3 linked regions of the Homo sapiens genome follow. The protein of the gene in region 2 binds, or shares a complex with, the protein of the main gene of each other region. Each region holds a gene or a part of one and is shown on either strand. Other genes may lie near its edges.

What was found. The genes of interacting proteins can lie anywhere in the genome.
Region 1: AHI1 (region 2) and CC2D2A share a complex: the UniProt entries of both Homo sapiens proteins name them as parts of the tectonic-like complex.
Region 3: AHI1 (region 2) and MKS1 share a complex: the UniProt entries of both Homo sapiens proteins name them as parts of the tectonic-like complex.

The regions. Positions count from the first base shown.
Region 1 is NC_000004.12:15,535,877-15,542,912, forward strand, and holds part of CC2D2A (coiled-coil and C2 domain-containing protein 2A), read left to right. Parts: intron 1-1,043; coding exon 1,044-1,200; intron 1,201-2,022; coding exon 2,023-2,261; intron 2,262-4,960; coding exon 4,961-5,138; intron 5,139-7,036. UniProt on the Homo sapiens protein: Component of the tectonic-like complex, a complex localized at the transition zone of primary cilia and acting as a barrier that prevents diffusion of transmembrane proteins between the cilia and plasma membranes.
Region 2 is NC_000006.12:135,487,736-135,494,771, reverse strand, and holds part of AHI1 (jouberin), read left to right. Parts: intron 1-2,480; 5' UTR 2,481-2,534; coding exon 2,535-2,544; intron 2,545-4,024; coding exon 4,025-4,149; intron 4,150-7,036. UniProt on the Homo sapiens protein: Involved in vesicle trafficking and required for ciliogenesis, formation of primary non-motile cilium, and recruitment of RAB8A to the basal body of primary cilium.
Region 3 is NC_000017.11:58,204,910-58,209,260, reverse strand, and holds the end of MKS1 (tectonic-like complex member MKS1), read left to right. Parts: intron 1-677; coding exon 678-748; exon of another isoform or gene 749-753; intron 754-1,086; coding exon 1,087-1,156; intron 1,157-1,259; coding exon 1,260-1,367; intron 1,368-1,531; coding exon of another isoform or gene 1,532-1,557; exon of another isoform or gene 1,558-1,700; intron 1,701-2,042; coding exon 2,043-2,176; intron 2,177-2,713; coding exon 2,714-2,796; intron 2,797-2,880; coding exon 2,881-2,978; intron 2,979-3,090; coding exon 3,091-3,182; coding exon of another isoform or gene 3,183-3,271; 3' UTR 3,272-3,820; downstream 3,821-4,351. UniProt on the Homo sapiens protein: Component of the tectonic-like complex, a complex localized at the transition zone of primary cilia and acting as a barrier that prevents diffusion of transmembrane proteins between the cilia and plasma membranes.

The DNA of each region.
Region 1 (7,036 bases), on a different chromosome or scaffold from region 2:
GTGCTGGGTGGGATGGATGAAGTCACCACACATTTGCCGCCATCTACCAGGAGAGCCATGCTGTTCATCAACATGTTAAGGGCTCTGAAAAGATGACCAGCAAGGAACCTTTCACACTTATTTAATCCAGTGTTAATATGGCCACAATATCTTTTCCTGGTGGTACATCTCACAGAACTAATGTCCTACAGAACACACTGTGGGAAACGGTGGTTTGAACTGGGCTGATCTCCTGGTGGAGTATAAGCAAAATCATCAAAGAAAAACCCAAATCCTCCATCCAAAGTCAAAAAAGTGGTTTCACCATCATTCTCAGCAAACTATCACAAGGACAGAAAACCAAACACCGCATGTTCTCACTCACAGGTGGGAATTGAACAATGAGAACACGTGGACACAGGGCGGGGAACATCACACACCAGGGCCTGTCGGGGGTGGGAGGGTTGGGGGAGGGATAGCATTAGGAGAAATACCTAATGTAGATGATGGGTTGATGCATGCAGTAAACCAACATGGCACATGTATACCTATGTATCAAACCTGCATGTTGTGCACATGTACCCTAGAACTTAAAGTATAATTTTAAAAAATTAAAATTAAAATTTTTTAAAAAGTGGTTTCAGGGACTCAGTAGCAACAAAATGAAGCAGTTCCTCAGAGACTTGAAGAAGTCATAAAATAACTAATGAAATTTCCACCACTATCAGCTGAGAACTTACAGGCCCCATGTCAGCACACCACACAGATCATTTAACACAGAGAGGCATGGCTGCTCAGTGTTCAGTGGGTTGGGCTCATATTCAGCCCTTCCACTCACCAGCTGTGTGTTCTTGGGAACTTACTTAACTTCTATGTGCCTCTGTCATCTCATGTATACGATGTGGATAATAATAGCATCTGCCTCACAGGATTGTGAGTTTACATGTGCGACATTTTTAGAAGAGGAACTGGCACATAGCAAGTCCAATATAAGTATTTGCTGTTATTATTGCTCTCTTACTTAATTTCCAGAAATAACCAAGGGACTACAAATTATTTTAAAGGGAAAAAGCTGACCAGAAAGCAGATGAAGAAGCATATGAAGCAGAAATTCAAGCTGAAATAAGTGAACTGTTAGAAGAGCACACGGAGGAGTACGCACAGAAGATGGAAGAATACAGAACGTCGTTACAACAGTGGAAGGCCTGGAGGAAAGTGCAAGTGTGTAAACAAACACTCAGCCTGGAATAGGGCTGGCCAGGAAGTGTCTGGGAGGGCAGCCTCCAGTACAGGAGTGGGGAAACCAGACTGGCAGACTAGGGTATCCTGTGGCTCCCTCTGTCTCTTCCCCGTCCCCTGGCTAAGGGATAAAAGGATGAATGAATTGACTGGCTAATGCATTTGCTTAAAAAGCCACCCAGCTGACTGATACCAGAGCCAGCTGTGTCCACAGAGAATGCTATGGTAGCACTCTGTGCCTATTTAAGTAATAATGTAGTAATCACTAATGCATGTGTCCAGCACTGTGCTGAGTATCTTACATGCATTATTCCATTAAATGTAGGGATTGATGCTTCTGAGTTTCCTTCAGAAAATTATATAACTTTATGCACATGACCCTACAAAACTGAGTCCAAGGGCAACAAATAATAGATCAGGTGGGCCTGCAATGCTCACTGTGCTTACATGCCTTATTTTAATATTTCAAGATGTGTACTTCGCCTTGAAAACCAAAATTAATGATCACATGAATACCTACCATTTTTTAAGCTCTTTCCAGGGACTAGGCTGTATGACAAATGCTTTTTAGGCATTTCAACAGTCTCATTTCAACAGCCCTGGGAGAAATTTCCTGGGCTCCATTCTGTAGATGAAAAAACTGAGGCACAGAGAGGTCAGGTGGCTTAGTGACCTGCCTGATTACACACTTCTGGTTGAAATGGGGCTGGGGTTTGTATCCAGGTCCATCTGGCTATGAAGACTGTGCTCTTAAATGAAATTCCAAAATTCCTGTTTGATATCATGTTGCCTCTAACTCAACAGAGGGCCAAGAAGAAGAAAAGGAAACAAGCAGCAGAAGAACATCCCGGTGATGAGATTGCAGAGCCGTATCCCGAGGAGGACCTTGTGAAGCCCAGCCCTCCAGAGCCCACTGATCGGGCAGTGATAGAGCAGGAGGTGAGGGAGAGAGCAGCCCAGAGCAGGAGGAGGCCTTGGGAGCCCACGCTGGTCCCGGAGCTAAGCCTGGCAGGAAGCGTAACACCCAATGACCAGTGCCCCAGGTGAGTGGATGCTCCGACCGTAAATGAGGCTGACATCTGATACACATGTTCACGTGGGCACATGCACACACACATGCACGACATGGGGAGTGTACACTTACTGACCTACACGAGCATCAGGAGTATCATTAACTCTAAATGAATATTAGGTTGAACCACATGAAATTGCTGACATTTGCCCACTTTAGGTGATTTCATATGATTCACCTACCTCATGCATCTGCACTGGCCACTCAGGAGCACACTGGAAAGCTCCCTGTAGGAGAAGCATCCCAGTTGCAAATCTCTGCCTGCTCTTCACAGTGGCTGTCTGTGTGGCTTTTGATTTGAGTCCCTTATCTGTAACCTCAATGAGTCCTTCAGTCCACTGGTAGCATGTCCCACCTTTCTGGCACAGGCACGGATGCCTTTCCTTGCCCCTTCCTTGATTTCAGCTGCTCCAGGGATCAGCTTTTCTCCTTGAAGACCCCCCAGAAAGTTGTGGGTGGTATTTAAGTCAGGCCATCTGAAGCACACCCTCCAGATATGATAAAAATACATGTCTAGTCATTCTCACTTGATGCCTAAGAGAAACATCATTTGATTTATATACATTTGTACATATAATAATTCATAAACATACATTTGTAAGTTCATCTTTTTAAAAATTATAACATAATAAAAATATTTTTATGTTTCCTATTTATTCTTTCCTTCACTGAATAGCCATGGTTCTCAAAGTATAGCCCCAGAATCAGCAGCATCAGCATCACTGAGGACTTGTTAGAAACATAAACTCAGGCCAGGCATGGTGGCTCATGCCTGTAACCTCAGCACTTTGGGAGGCTGAGGCAGGAGGATCGCTTGAGGCCAGGAGTTGGAGACCAGCCTGGGGAACAAAATGAGACCTCACCTCTATTGAATAAATAAATAAATACCCCAAACATTTTTAATACCTCACATTGAAATAAATATGTTTAAGAAAGATTAATAAAAACTAGCCAGATAATTAAAGTCAACCAACTAAACAGAAATTTAAAAAATAATTTTAAAAAAGAAAGAAATGCAAGCTCACAAGTTCTACCTGAGACTTACTGAACCTGAAACCCTGAGGTGGGGCCTAGAAAACTGTTCTCACAAGGTCTCCAAGTGATTCTGATGCATGTTATGGTATATCATCATTAATTAAAGGGAGTCCATTAAAATCATCGATACCACAAAATCCCAGGCTTAGTTCTCCAGTAAATAGAAGATCTATCATGAATACAGGGACTGTTGTACACTGGAATCTTCAATATCCCAACGTGAAAAATGAGAATTCAAATAAAGTCAGTCAGCCTCCGAGTTCATTAAAACGTGGGAGTTAATTAGGATGTCATTATAAGACTTCTCACAGTCTTGGTTTCAAACTTCTGCTAATGTTCTAATGATTGATTTATTCTAATGATTGATTTATTTTAAAATTATAGCTTTTTGTGCATTTTCATGTGTTCCCTCAACTTCACATATTAAGATATTATACATAAACTATTCCCCTGCACTAAGTAAGCAATTTTCAAGGCACAAGTACCATACCCTATAATTTTAATTTTGACATGAATGTTCAAAATATGTGATGACACAGCATGCTTTCTAAAAGGAAAATTTGGGCTTGATTTGGTAATCTTTTATGAGTGGAGTCTAAGTCTTCAGTGTCTTGGATACTTCTTGCAAATTTGCTGTGAAGTGTCCTTTATTAAAAAAATGCTGAAGTAATTTGAGCTATTTCATCTAGAATAAGTCTAAATTATAGACATGTAAAAAGTTAAAACTACCACCCCCTTTAATTACTAGAGAATTTCTGTTTGGAATGATGAAGAAGCTCTGAAGGTGGATAGTGGTGATGGTTAGACAACATAGTAATTGTATGTAATGCCACTGAATCATACACTTAAAAATGGTTAAAGTGATAAACATTACGTTATGTTATATATATTTTCCACAATGGAACAATTTTTAATAAACTACCACCCCTCCCCCAAAAAAAACCTAAGCTTGTTTCAAATTTTGATGCCCTAACCTTTTCCTTTCCTCAATTAGCTTGAATTGCTATTGACTTAACCAATAACTGGCATTTTTTGGTGGATGTCTATACACATATGTACAATAAAATTAAAGACCAATGGGAGGTTGTTTTTTTTTTTAACTTTCTGATTCAAATTATCTTTAAAAATAAGGAATATTTATTAATACTCTGCATCCATTGAACATTCACTTACTGTCTGAAAATGTTGAGAAAAACTTGGTATCTTGGAAAAATGAACTCGATCTAACTGCTACAATATGCTGCTGTATTTTTAGAATAAAACTTCTTACTCAAATATAAATCATTATTATCCCCTTTGTCTTGAATTTATTCCATTTAACAAGGAATATGTGAATTTAAAACTTTGGGACACAAATGTAAAGCTTGCCTGAAAAACCTGAGGAGACTGTAGCACAACAATGAATGGACTCTAGTTCTTAAATCCTCTGTGCCCTTTTCAGTGTCTGTTAATGGCTTCTCCATAAATTCCATACTACTCTGCAAGACCTGTGGCTCCTCTGGTTAAATGAGGGCTGACATGATTGGGAGAGTTGCCTGCAGTGTGTCTTGTTCTGTTCAGTTCTTATTTATCATATATTTTGGTGATCTTAGTAAATTATTACTAACTCCACCTGTGAATGGTCTCCTTTTGCAGAGCGGAGGTCTCGAGAAGGGAGGATGTAAAGAAGCGCTCAGTGTACTTAAAAGTGCTGTTCAACAACAAGGAGGTGTCCAGGACAGTCAGTCGGCCACTAGGAGCAGACTTCCGAGTTCACTTTGGGCAGATTTTCAATTTGCAAATAGTCAACTGGCCGGAGAGTTTAACACTTCAGGTACACATTTTAATTATAGTTACTGGCCGGGCACTGTGGCTCATGCCTGTACTTTGGGAGGCCAAGGTGGGCAGATCACTTAAGGCCAGGAGTTCGAGACCAGCCTGGCCAACATGGCAAAACCACATCTCTACTGTAAATACAAAAAAAAAAAATTAGCCAAGTGTGCTGGCGGGTGCCTGTAATCCCAGCTACTCGGGAGGCTGAGGCAGGAGAATCTCTTGAACCCAGGAGGTGGAGGTTGCATTGAGCTGAGATCATGCCACTGTACTCCAGCCTAGGCGACAGAGTGTGACTCTGTCTCAAAACAATAGTAATAATAATTATTATTATTATTATAGTTACTGCCCCAATAATTTTTTGTTCATTACAGCTTTGAGATGATTTTAAATCATCCATTGGTTATAAATATGTCTCGATAGAGTCTCAAGCCTCTTCCTTGGCACATCTGTTCTTAAAGTCTTGGAAGAAAGAGATCTGTTCCCCAACTCACCTACTGAAAATGCTGGCAGAATAACTCTGGCCACAGTGCTCTGGAGTGTCTGCCTTGAGATGGGAGAGGGGTGCTGAAGGGGGTGGGGCACAGGGAGATCTCCAGCTCATTCATTGAAGACATATTTCAACATCACCCTCTACAAGGACTCTAGTGTAATATAACAGAGAAATCAATTATGCCGCAATCATGGGAGGTTATGATGTGGGAAAGATACAGGTGCTAGGATCCCCCAAAAATTAATAAATCTCCTCACTAGCCTAAATCCCACCATTAGCAATATATTTATTTGAGTCTATTTTAGTTTCCTGGGGAAACTAAACTATAACAAGGAACCACTAACTTGGTGGCTTCAAAACAACAGAAATGTGTTTACTCACAGTTCTGGAGGCCTAAAGTCTGAAATCAAGGCGTCAGTAGGGCCATACTCCCTCCAAAAGCTCTAGAGGAGTATCTTTCCCTGCCTCTTCCAGCTCCTCCTGGCACTTAGAGTTCCTTGGTTTGTGTTAGCGTAACTCTAATCTCTGCTTCCATCTTCACATAGCCTTCTCTGTGTCTCTCTCTGTGGGTCCTCTTTTGTCGCTTATAAGAACACTCTTATTGGATTTAGGGCCCACCCTAATCTAATATGATCTTATCTTCATCCTTAACTAATGATATCTGCAAAGACCCCATTTCCAAATTAGGTCGCATTCTGAGTTTCTGGGCGGACATCAATATGTGGAGGATGCTATTTAACCCATTACAGTGTCTTCAGTCTTGCTTGTTCTTTCGGTGACTCTTCTCCCACAATGCTAACAGGTCTCTCTTATGATCCTAACAGGCTTGTTAACTAGGATTGCAGCTTTGTGGCATGCATGCCCTTGTTTCCCCACCACCACCCAGGCAGAAATCACAGATCCTCATCCATCACTTAGGCAGAAATTTCTCACTCCCCTCCACCACCCTTGCCAGAAAGCAATAATTGATGGTGCTATTTTTGTTGTGTTTTCCCACTGAGCCTGAATATAATTTTAGAACTCTTCTCAATACAGTACTTCAGGTAGCCACTACCTATTCCTAGTGAGTATGACTGACAAAGTCTGCAGGTACCATCATGGCTGTATAATTAATAAAATATTTACATACTCTGTACTGACTGATAAATAGCTGCTGCCCTGACCTTCCCAGATGCCATCCTGGCCACATAAGCCCCACTTCAAGGACCCCCTGGACCTTACCACAATTGACCAATTAAAGGGGGTGGCTGACCAAGGCCAGCGCCTCCAGGGTCCTGTTCCCAAGCTGTGGTGGGCAGCTCTTCTAATGAACCCAGGAGGTGGGTTCAATACTGTGTATTGTTCAGCATTTTGAATATCAAGCCCCGCCTAGATCTCAGTAGTTAAAAACCTTCTACAACCTGTAG
Region 2 (7,036 bases):
GATTCTCATTGGCTTTTTATTTTCTTGGAACTATCATATTTATAAATAACTCCCAAATCTTCAGCCTATTGTCTCCCTGCTGGATTAGTAGATTGCCTAACAAACATAATATGATTATATACGTAAACACACACACACGTGACAGTAATAACAGTTGTTGTTTTTGAAGGGCTTGCCATGTGCTAGGCATTGTGCCTAGTATTTTATTTGCATATTCTCATTTAATCTTTATAAAAACACTGTGAGTGATTTACTCTTATTATTGTGAAAGATTAGGAAGTTGATATCCATAGAGGTGAATCTGCTGGCAGATAGAACTGGTATTTGGATCCAAGGATCTGAAAATGGAGCTGATGCTTGTAGCTGCTCAGTGCCCTTCAGATACCCAACTCAACATGACCCATACTAAGCTCAGTGACTGCACCCTAACAACCTGTTACAGTTATAGCTAACATTTATTGTTGCTTCTTCTGTCTACGGTACTGTTCTAAATCATTTAACCCTTACAACAACCCTTTGAGTCGGCACTGGTAGGGTGTTTTTATAGATGAGGAAACAAAAGTCACGCAAGTGACTATGGAAACTAATTCTAGGACATGGATTTTAAACTACTGCCCTGTACTGCATTATATTACAGTGTAATGATACTACTAATCTACTTATTCTAGTTCTAGAAACATGGGAATTATCTCCGATTCTTTCTCCTGCCTCTTCATTAGTTATTTAATCTTTCTAAAATATTACCTCACTCCATCACCTGGAGCGCACTGGTGCAGTCTTGGCTCCCTGCAACCTCCACATTTCAGGTTCAAGCGATTTTCCTGCCTCAGCCTCCCCAGTAGCTGGGATTACAGGCACCCACCACCACGCCTGACTAAGTTTTGTATTTTTGGTAGAGATGGGGTTTTACCATGTTGGCCAGACAGGACACAAACTCCTGACCTCAAGTGATCCACCCGCCTTATCCTTCCCAAGTATTGGGATTACAGACATGAGCCACGGCGCCCAGCAGGCTTTTTTTTGATGAATCATAGTCATAATATAGGTCAGCTTTTTCCTGGCCTATTAGATGACCATCGAGTAGTATAAATATTAAATTTTTATTTGTTTTATGATTTTTCTACTTCCGTGCTCTCAGGTTTCAATTACTCATGCTGTCATTGCACTTGCCTTTGCAGCTTCTCTTTTCTAATTTAATATAGACTAGAAAGTAGAAGACTAGATTTATTAAATTTATAACTGCTAGAAGGAGTAAATACAGGCTCCTATCACTAAAGTATAGGAATTTTTACTCCATGGATTTAGTGATGTCTGTTTTGACTGGGTGCCACGTAGTTGTTGCCTAAGTTAACTGACATAGTTAGGTATGTTTACATAATCATTCCTTTCTTTTTAGAATTTCTTAGACATTTCTGCAAGAGGAACATGAATGTGGATGTCCAGGGAATTGGAGCATTAACCAATAATGCCTTGGGCCCAGTGTGGTGGCTCACGCCTGTAATCCCAACACTTTGGGAGGCTGAGTCGGGCAGATCATATGAGGTCAGGAGTTCAAGACCAGCCTGGCCAACATGATGAAACCCTGTCTCTACTAAAAATACAAAAATTAGCTGGGTGTGGTGGCGCACACCTGTAATCCCAGCCACTCGGGAGGCTGAGGCAGGAGAATCGCTTGAACCTGGGAGGCGGAGGTTGCAGTGAGCCGAGATCACACCACTGCACTCGACAAAGGGAGACTCCATCTCAAAAACAAACAAATCAATAATTCCTGAACCAGCTTTTTTTTTAACACTCTTCAGTTTTAGTCTCAAAAACATGCATATTACATTCTAAATGTTCTAATGTGAGAATATGTTCATTTTAGACATACACCGATTTTTTTAATAAAATGGGCAATTTAGTAATATACATACTGAGTTGAACCATGGTTTTGAGTAGTTCTGACACAGTAATACACATCCAGGTTTTATTAAAGAAAGATGGTGCAAATATTTGTACTATCCTTCTCTATTGTAGCAGAATTTTCAGTGGCAGACACAGAGGTATTTAAATTCACTGTGAGTGTGCTACCCACAAGCATGCTTTAATGTAATATTGAATGCTCTTAGGAAAGTCAATCCTGAGATGGAGTTTGGTTTCTTAAAAGTGCGTTGAAATGTTCATTAATGTATTAAAACACTTTAAAAAGTTTATTAACATACCACATTAGATGTGCACTGCCTTCAAAATGTTTTTTTTGTTTCAAATATATAAATACTTTATTCAGATATGATCTAGTTTGTTTCCCTTGATTTTAGAGCCCTAAACTGATTCAAATGTACCCAAGTCATTTGCATAAGATTGGGTTAAGGGAACATAGCTTTATTGGTATAAACTTAATGAAGTAGTGGACATACAATGGCATGATCTTGTGTGAAGAACGTTTTATAATTTTTATTTGGAAGTTCCATATTACAAATACATCTCCTTTGTTTCGATAGGATCCTGATTGAGTCAATGCTTTGCATTCTCAGTCCTCTGCATAAAGCTGAGAGATGCCTACAGGTAAGACTTCTATGAAATTTATGTATAAAATTTATATTTTATACATTTACTTTTAAGTTTGGTTTATTTTAAGGGATTCTTGAACAGATTAATGAATACAGTAGATGTCATTGACCAAATATACTACATTTAGAGATACTTATTGGTTTTGTATTCAGTTTTCTATTTAATATTGTGATTAAGGTTAGTATGTATTTAATGGATGGTAGTTTGGGACTCAGATGGACAAGGTAAATAATGATTACAACATAGGGTTAGTTTTTATTCTTTATCATCAAAATTGAATGTTTTACTCCACCACAAGCATTGGCAATCTTTTCTAAAAGGGCTAGCTAGTAAATATTTTAGGCTTAGTCTCTGCTATAACTGCTCAACTCTGTCTCTCTGTCTCTTTTAAAGCATGAAAGCAGTTATAACAATTCTTAATCAAATGGGTATGTCTGATTTCAATAAATCTTTACAAAAACAAGTGACTAGCCTGCAGGCCATAGTTTGCCGACACTTGCTCTAGAGCACCCATTCATTCAGCATTTATTAATTTAAAACATAATGACTATGTACACTATGTCAGACCTCATAATAGTAGCTGGGGATGTAGTTATGGGGGAAACAGAAAATATGTTTCTTTATATAGATATAAAAATAATTATATAATTTCCATTTGGGTTGAGTGCTGTGAAGGAAGAGAACAACCTGCTATGTGAGAAAAGGGAAAATTAGATGAGTTTGTCAGGAGGTGTTTTATTTACAGGCAGCATTTAAACAGACAGGTTAACACCAGCCAGGTGAGGAATTAGAGGAAGCTTGCCTCAGAAACAGCTTCATGTGGGAAGGAGCTTGCTGTGACGGAGGAGCTAAAGGAAGGGTATTATAGCTAGAACATAGGCATCTAAGGGGATATTTGTCTTGATTTGAAGCCCTGGAGATAGATCAGGAGGTATGGAGCCCTGTAGGGCATATAAAAGACTTATTTTATCCTAAATGTATTGGGAAATTTTCAGGGGCTTAAGCATTATCTTCTTCATGTTTTAAAGGAAAAACCTGTTAATATTTGTGGAATACTGATTACAGGCTAGGCACACCTTAGCCATTTTTCATGCAAAATGATCTTTGGCATAAGATAATTGTGATTTTACAGATAAGGAAAATGAAGTTTAGAGATCTTGAGTAACTTGTCTAAAGCCACATAACACGTAACTAACAGTGGTAGATGCTACTGTTTATCAGAAATAAAAAGTTAACTTAGCAAAGGAGACTTTTAGAGTGAGTGGCCAAAAAGGTCAGAGGGATACAGGTGAATGTTGTGTCACTAAAGTCAAAATAAAAAATATTTTAAGAAGGAAAGATAGGTGAGTTTTTCTAATGTAGCTAGAGAACTCATGCCGATATTTACAAGAACTTATTTCTTAACATCCTAGTAGTGTAGGTTGTGTGTTATGATAGAGTCATTTACAAAATCACATGGCTGTATCTTTTGTAGCTGAGAGTGAAGCAAAAGTAAAAACCAAAGTTCGCTTTGAAGAATTGCTTAAGACCCACAGTGATCTAATGCGTGAAAAGAAAAAACTGAAGAAAAAACTTGTCAGGTCTGAAGAAAACATCTCAGTAAGTAAATGATCATTGGGTAATAGTGATTTACATATGCGCATAAAATGCAGATATGGCTGCATTTTATGTTAAAATTCTAAGGAATTTTGAAAATTAAAAACAGTAACACTATGTCATGGTCAATAACATGTGGTAAAAATAAAGTTTATATTAGAATCAACATCACTGTGAGAATATTGACTTCATTCTTGAGTGCTGTCCTACAGGAAGAACACACACACAGTGGGGAAAATGACCAGAGATAGTGGGGAAACTCAAAACTAGCCATGATAACATTTTTGAAGAAAATATTTTTAACCCAGAATTGTGAAGAACTTAGGAAGTAGTATCTTAACTTCAGATATTGAATAGCTTGTGCTTATTTAAACTATTTCTGTGTGATTCTACCCAACAGAACCAGGAGAAATCAATGGCCGTATGGTAATAATTATCCTTTTATGTTTGAGGCACACTTTCAAATGATAGAATCTTTGGCAGCACACTTGAAGGAATTAAAAATACAGTGCTCAAAGACTAAGCAAATCAGCAACTAACTACAACCTGATCCCCTTGGAATCATAAAGAGTCTGTATTGGCATCCACAGTTAATGCTCTATGCCCTCTTTATACCTATCTCCCTACTTGAGTTGCACTTTTTACTACTTTGACCATTATCTCTTCTGTCCTCACAGAAAAAAATAAACAGGCTCTTGTGTAAATGGTACATAGTTTTTTTTTTTTTTTTGGCAGGAGTTTTATAATGAGTTATAATCCTACATTTTGCTTGTAGTAAGATTTACCCCATTTTTTCTTAAGACCTGTTCATTTTAGTATTCTGTCTGGCAGATGTCAATGTAACAATATAAATTCTGAAGTGAGGCAAAAACAAGTAGTAAAATTGACCAAAATCCAGCTGCACATATGTGAGGGTTCATAGTGTATACACTGGTGTACGACTGCACAAAAATTTCGAACTACTGACAGAATGGACAGATTAGCACTCCCATAGTGATTGCTGCTCTGAAATAGCATGTGCTTTTTCTGGTGGTACTAGTGCACAATATGGTAGGGAATAGTGACATGGAGGATGAAACATTGCTTATTGATATATGCGCTCCCCTCAGATGGAGTGGTTTATGTTGGGCAAAAGCAAAAAGAACCCTGGAAACAGTTGTCTGCAGAGATGTTTTATGCTCAGAGAAGAACCTCATATTGTCTCTTAGTATTAAAGAACTGGGAGTTGTGAGCCATGAACAAAATGCAATTTAGACCAAGGTTTAAATTAAATGGATAATCAGAATAGGCAGAGGCTATGTCCATTTACCTAAGGTCCAGTTTAAATGTTGAGGGGCACATAAGTGTGAGGTGACTAAGCATAATTTATCCAGCCTCTCTTTGCAAACACCAGGACTGAATAGGCTTCTTTTCTTTCAGAAATAAGTACACTAGGAACAAATATTTGGGAAGATATTTCGCAGCTCAAAAGAACAGGAATATTTCTAAAGGACTTAGAGGAGAACAAAATATTTTTGACATGATTAACTTGAGGAAGTAAAAGAGGAATAGCTGCTTTCATTTGCTAGATGCCTTAATGCTTTCTATCTTTAGGCACTCTTCTAAACACTTTATATATATTTAGTCGTTTAATACAAACGACGAAATTACAGGGTTTTATTTCTGTACAGGAGAAAACTACATCAGAAGTTAAGTAACTTGCTGAAAGTTACATAGTAAATGGTAGAACCAGGATTCAAACACTGAGTGGAAGTGCAGAATCCACTGCCTTAACCACAACCCAATATTATCTATTTTAATGAAATTTGAAAAGATAGGACTTCTTCTTGAAAGAAGAACAGGGAGTCCTATGTACAGAACAGGCTGAGATGAGAAATGGAGCAGTCTGAAATAAAATTAAGCGAGGAAAAAAGTCAAAATAGGGATTCATAATAATGGCAGGTTCATCTTATATTCCAGTTATATATAAGGCACAATAATAAGAGTTTTACAAATATTATTTCTAAATCTCATGTTAATCATGCAAGATAGATATTGGGATTCTTTTTTTGCACATGAGAAATTTTATAAACAGACAAACAGACATGTTAGGTGATTTCCTTAGGTCATTTAGTCTAAAATAGGATAAGTGGGATTTAAGACCACAGTCTCTGCAATTTTAAAGTTCATGTTCTTCAGTTGCTTCCTTAAAACTATATCTCAGGCCTAAAATGATGGAATTGACACTACGGAAAAATCTAATCAGTGAAGTGGGAGACAAATTCGAGGTGGGAAGAAATGACCAAAACTAAAATGAAAGAAATAAATGATGAGGACATAGAAAGATATTTGACCCACAAATAAGTATCCCGGGACAGTACTAGTGGAGCAGAAACAATAATGAGCATGATGAAGAAACCTTGCTGAGATTTCTGAAGAGATGAGTCATCCTGCATTCCAGGCAAAATTTATGAGATGAGAACTATATCTAGAAAATTCTTTTGTTTGTATCTTAAGAGTCAAATATTGCAGACACCTAAACACAAAAACATATAGTACATTTGAGACTTCTCTGTAAAAACACTAAATCCAAAAGACAATGGAGAAATATTTAGAGCACTAAGAGAAAAATTGTAGCCTGAGGAATCTGGTCACCTAAGTTGTCAGTCATTTGTGATGGTAGTTGTAAACATATGTGCATTATTAGAGAAATATCAGTGTTCCCTCCCTGGAAAAAAAAAAAGATTTAAGATTTATTAAAGATGTAGTACCATTTCTAGATATGAATCAAAGTTAAGAATTTAAGAATAGAACATCTTAAGATCTTAGAGGAAGGGATGAAGAGAAGTTGGTTAAGGAGTACAAAAATATAGTTAGAAGGAATAAGTTCTAGTAGTCAGTATTACAGTAG
Region 3 (4,351 bases), on a different chromosome or scaffold from region 2:
GAAACTGTCCGCCCCGTCTGGGAAGTGAGGAGCGCCTCTGCCCGGCCGCCCCATCTGGGAGGTGTACCCAACAGCTCCGAAGAGACAGCGACCATTGAGAATGGGCCATGATGACGATGGCGGTTTTGTCAAAAAGAAAAGGGGGAAATGTGGGGAAAAGAAAGAGAGATCAGATTGTTACTGTGTCTGTGTAGAAAGAAGTAGACATAGGAGACTCCATTTTGTTCTGTACTAAGAAAAATTCTTCTGCCTTGGGATGCTGTTAATCTATAACCTTACCCCCAACCCCGTGCTCTCTGAAACATGTGCTGTGTCAACTCAAGGTTAAATGGATTAAGGGCGGTGCAAGATGTGCTTTGTTAAACAGGTGCTTGAAGGCAGCATGCTCCTTAAGAGTCATCACCACTCCCTAATCTCAAGTACCCAGGGACACAAACACTGTGGAAGGCCGCAGGGACCTCTGCCTAGGAGAACCAGAGACCTTTGTTCACGTGTTTATCTGCTGACCTTCTCTCCACTATTATCCTATGACCCTGCCACATCCCCCTCTCCGAGAAACACCCAAGAATGATCAATAAATACAAAAAAAAAAAAGAAAAGAAAAAAGAAACTGTCTTTTTCTGAATGACTTGCTTTCCTCCCAGGCGAGCTTACTATATTTGGTCTTTGGCTTTCAGACTGGTCAAGCCCAGCATTCCAGCAGCTCTCAGGAGTAACACAGACCTGCACCACCAAGTCCCTGGCAATGGTATGGAGAATGAGAGCGGGTATCTGGAAGGGAATGAGATCTGCTCCTGGGATGGCATTTGAGGTTTTATCAGGCCAAGTGCTGTGCGCCCTGGGGAGGATTCCAGAGTTGGGTGACTTGTGTGTGGGTTCTACAGGGCCACCTGGTCCGGAGATCCTGTCTGTCTTTTTGAGCATGGCAGCAGCTTGTATTTGGGTGTCCTTTTGCATCTCAGACTCCTATTTCCCACCTGGGTGATAATTTTTCTTTTTCCCTTGTGAAGATAACCTTGTCATTGGCCACAAGGAGAACAGATTCCAAGGGAGGCCTTGCCCACCCTATGACACTCCTTTTTATAGGACAAGGTGGCTCACTTCTCCTACCCATTCACGTTTGAAGCCTTCTTCCTCCATGAGGATGAATCTTCTGGTGAGTAGCTCAGCAGTTGATCCTGGGCCTTGGTTCCCCTCAAGCAGTGCTGTCTCTTGGTGAAGGCCGCCTGTGACCTGGCCGCTTCTCTCCTTGCTCCCAGATGCACTCCCGGAGTGGCCTGTGCTCTACTGTGAGGTCCTCTCGCTGGACTTCTGGCAGAGGTACCGTGTGGAAGGCTATGGGGCTGTGGTGCTGCCTGCCACTCCAGGTAACCGCTCGTCTCTGCCCTTCTGTGGCCCACATGCCCTAGGCCCTAAGAACAAGACTAACACTCGAATGCTTCTGGTGAGGGGTGGAGATAATTGGGAATTGGAAATGTTTGGCTTGAAAGAGTTCCTGTTCCTCTGAGGACTTTCTGCCCCCCTCCATTAGCGACAATGACGTGGCCTTGGCACTGACTTCCTGACAGTCTCTCCATGTGCTTCATGCTCCTCTGATTGGACTCAGGGTGAGAAGCTGTATGGCAAAATTGGCTCATAGCATATGTGTATTGAATGAATCAGCATTCAGTTTGGAATAAAAGCATCTGTCTTTTACTGTGTGCCAGGCATTGTGCCATACTTCTCACTTAATTCTCCCAGTCACTCTGTGAGGTGCAGGTGGTATTATTTCCATTTTACTAGATGAGGAGAATGAGCTTCAGAGAGGTTAAGAAACCTGTCCTGGGTATGCAGGTAATAACTGGCAGAGCGGAAATTTGAATTTCTCCCTGATTGATTTCCATACAGGTGCTATGGGTAACCATGATAACCTGCACCAGAGGCCAGGTCATCACCAGACCAGGTGTTTTAGCTGAGTCTAGGCCTGTGTCATTGCTGGGGAGTCAGTGAGGGGCCACATGCCCTTTCTGGACCTGGCCCCAGTCTTCTCTTCCCTTGCGCAGGCTCACACACCCTGACAGTCTCCACGTGGAGACCTGTGGAGCTTGGCACGGTGGCTGAGCTGAGGAGGTTTTTCATTGGCGGTTCTCTGGAACTGGAGGACCTCTCCTATGTACGGATACCAGGATCCTTCAAGGTGACTTTTGTCTTTGGAGTGACTTCACGCTGAGAACTTATGGTCCTGTCCTTCTGTAGGAGGTGGGATCTGGGTCAAGACCCCTTAGTTGTGCATTGCTTCAGTATTAACCCCTTCCTTCCTGTGGCTTAAGCTGGAAGTCATGACCACATTTTGAATCAGGTTCCAATATCTACACTGCTATCGTAGGAGGTCTCTGGAAAATAGTATAATTAGAGATTTCCCCTGGTTCCCATCAGAATAACTGGCTCTTTCCCCCATCACTGAAGGCCTCAGTAATCAGATGTGGGGAGGATTCACAGTAAGCATATAAGACCGCCGCTTCTCAAATGAGGTTGGAATGTTCCCTGGTTTAGTTGGGGGAGCCCAATAGCCCAGTATTAGCCTTGAGGTAATAGAGTCTGGGTGATGGAATAAGGTTTCCCCAACAGAACTGCGCTTCCCAAGAATGGGAATAAGAATGGGGGTGAGGCCAGCATGGTGCGGGGGTGTCTAGAGAGAGCAGAAACCTGAGGCTGTCCCAATGGCATGCCACAGGGGGAACGCCTGAGCCGCTTTGGACTCCGCACAGAGACCACAGGCACTGTCACCTTCCGCTTGCACTGTCTGCAGCAGTCCAGGTGAGTGACTTGGCCCTCTGCCTCAGGGCACCTTAGCCCTGAGGGGTGGAGACAGCCGTAACCATGTGGCTGGCCTCCCTGCAGGGCCTTCATGGAATCGAGCTCCCTTCAGAAAAGGATGCGGAGTGTGTTGGACCGTCTGGAAGGGTTCAGCCAGCAGAGTTCCATTCACAATGTGCTAGGTATGTCCCCTCCCCCAGCTGGCCACCCCAGGTCAGCATGGGCCTGTTTCTCTCTGCAGTGCAGAGAGAAATACCATATGGCAGCCAAATAGCATATCTCCTTTCCTTACAGAGGCCTTCCGTCGAGCCCGGCGCCGCATGCAGGAGGCCCGGGAAAGCCTCCCGCAGGACCTAGTGAGCCCCTCTGGAACCCTGGTCTCCTAGCTCACAGCAGCCCTGGCCCACAGTGCAAGAGGACAAGATGGGGGATATCTGAGGCCAGTGCTCTCCTGCCTCTTCGTCTTTCTGATTAGAGACCACGTTGGTCTGCTGAGAACCAGAAAAGCTGGGAAATTCCCGGCTGGCCCCTCTGCCTAGCCTTCTGCAGGGTCTTCTCCCTACCCTGTGGAAATAAAGCCAGAGACCCTGTGGCCCCCCCTTTATATTTGCAGCCACTGTCAATGGGCATCACAGCAAGGCAGGCTTTTTGATCTGAAGCTGTTTGGGGTGACCCCATAGTGAGTCTGGCCTTGACTCACTTTTCTGGCTTGTCTCACAGTAGCAGGGGATCTGCTGTTCTCCACCCTTTAAAAATGGAGCCTTTCATCTTCCAAGACCAAAGAAGGAAGGAAGGTGGACGGTGAGAGGGTCTTAAATCCCCAGCCTGTGAGTCTCAGCCTCTTTCCAGGGAAGCCTCATTCTACTGCTTGGGGCTTGCTGAGGTTGAGATATGAGTTATTTCTGAGTAAGTGAAGGCTGAAGGCAGTGCTGAGTCCTTTCTGCTAGCTGGGTGGTATCTTTTACTGTGTTTTTTTGTTTGTTTGTTTTTTTGTTTTTTGTTACATAAACCCCTTTTATTTTGACTGATGTTCTGTTGGCTGTTTGTCTGCTCAGGTTGCTGGTATGGCTAGGGTGTTCTTAATGTCGGGGCCCCTACCATGTCTGCCCTTCCCCTTTTCTGCCTTTCCCTACTCCACAGTGTTTCTTTGGGCTCTCCTAATTCAGCCCCCAGGAGAGGCTTAGATGGTTGTGCCAGCTTGCGTGTTAACAGCACTTCTCTTAAACATCTGGAGCAAAGCATGGAACTGAGGCCACGTCTTCCCTAGCCCAACACAGAAACAGCAGCCCCTGCCCTTAGCAGTGCTTTATTGGTAGAAGCAGAGCATGCTGCCTGGCCTCAGGCTCAGAGGAGTATTGTGGGGTGTCTGGAGGCTAGGACCGAGTGGTCTCTTAGTCATGGTGAGGGAGGGGAGGGAGGGCTGGGAAACAGTAGAAAGTGCTGTAAACCCTCCAGCTGACTTTTCTTGCCTGGGGTGCAAGACCACATGGCTTGGCTCCCAAGCCTTTGCACGTGGCGCTGATTCATAGCCTAATACCTAAGAGGCTCCCAAGGC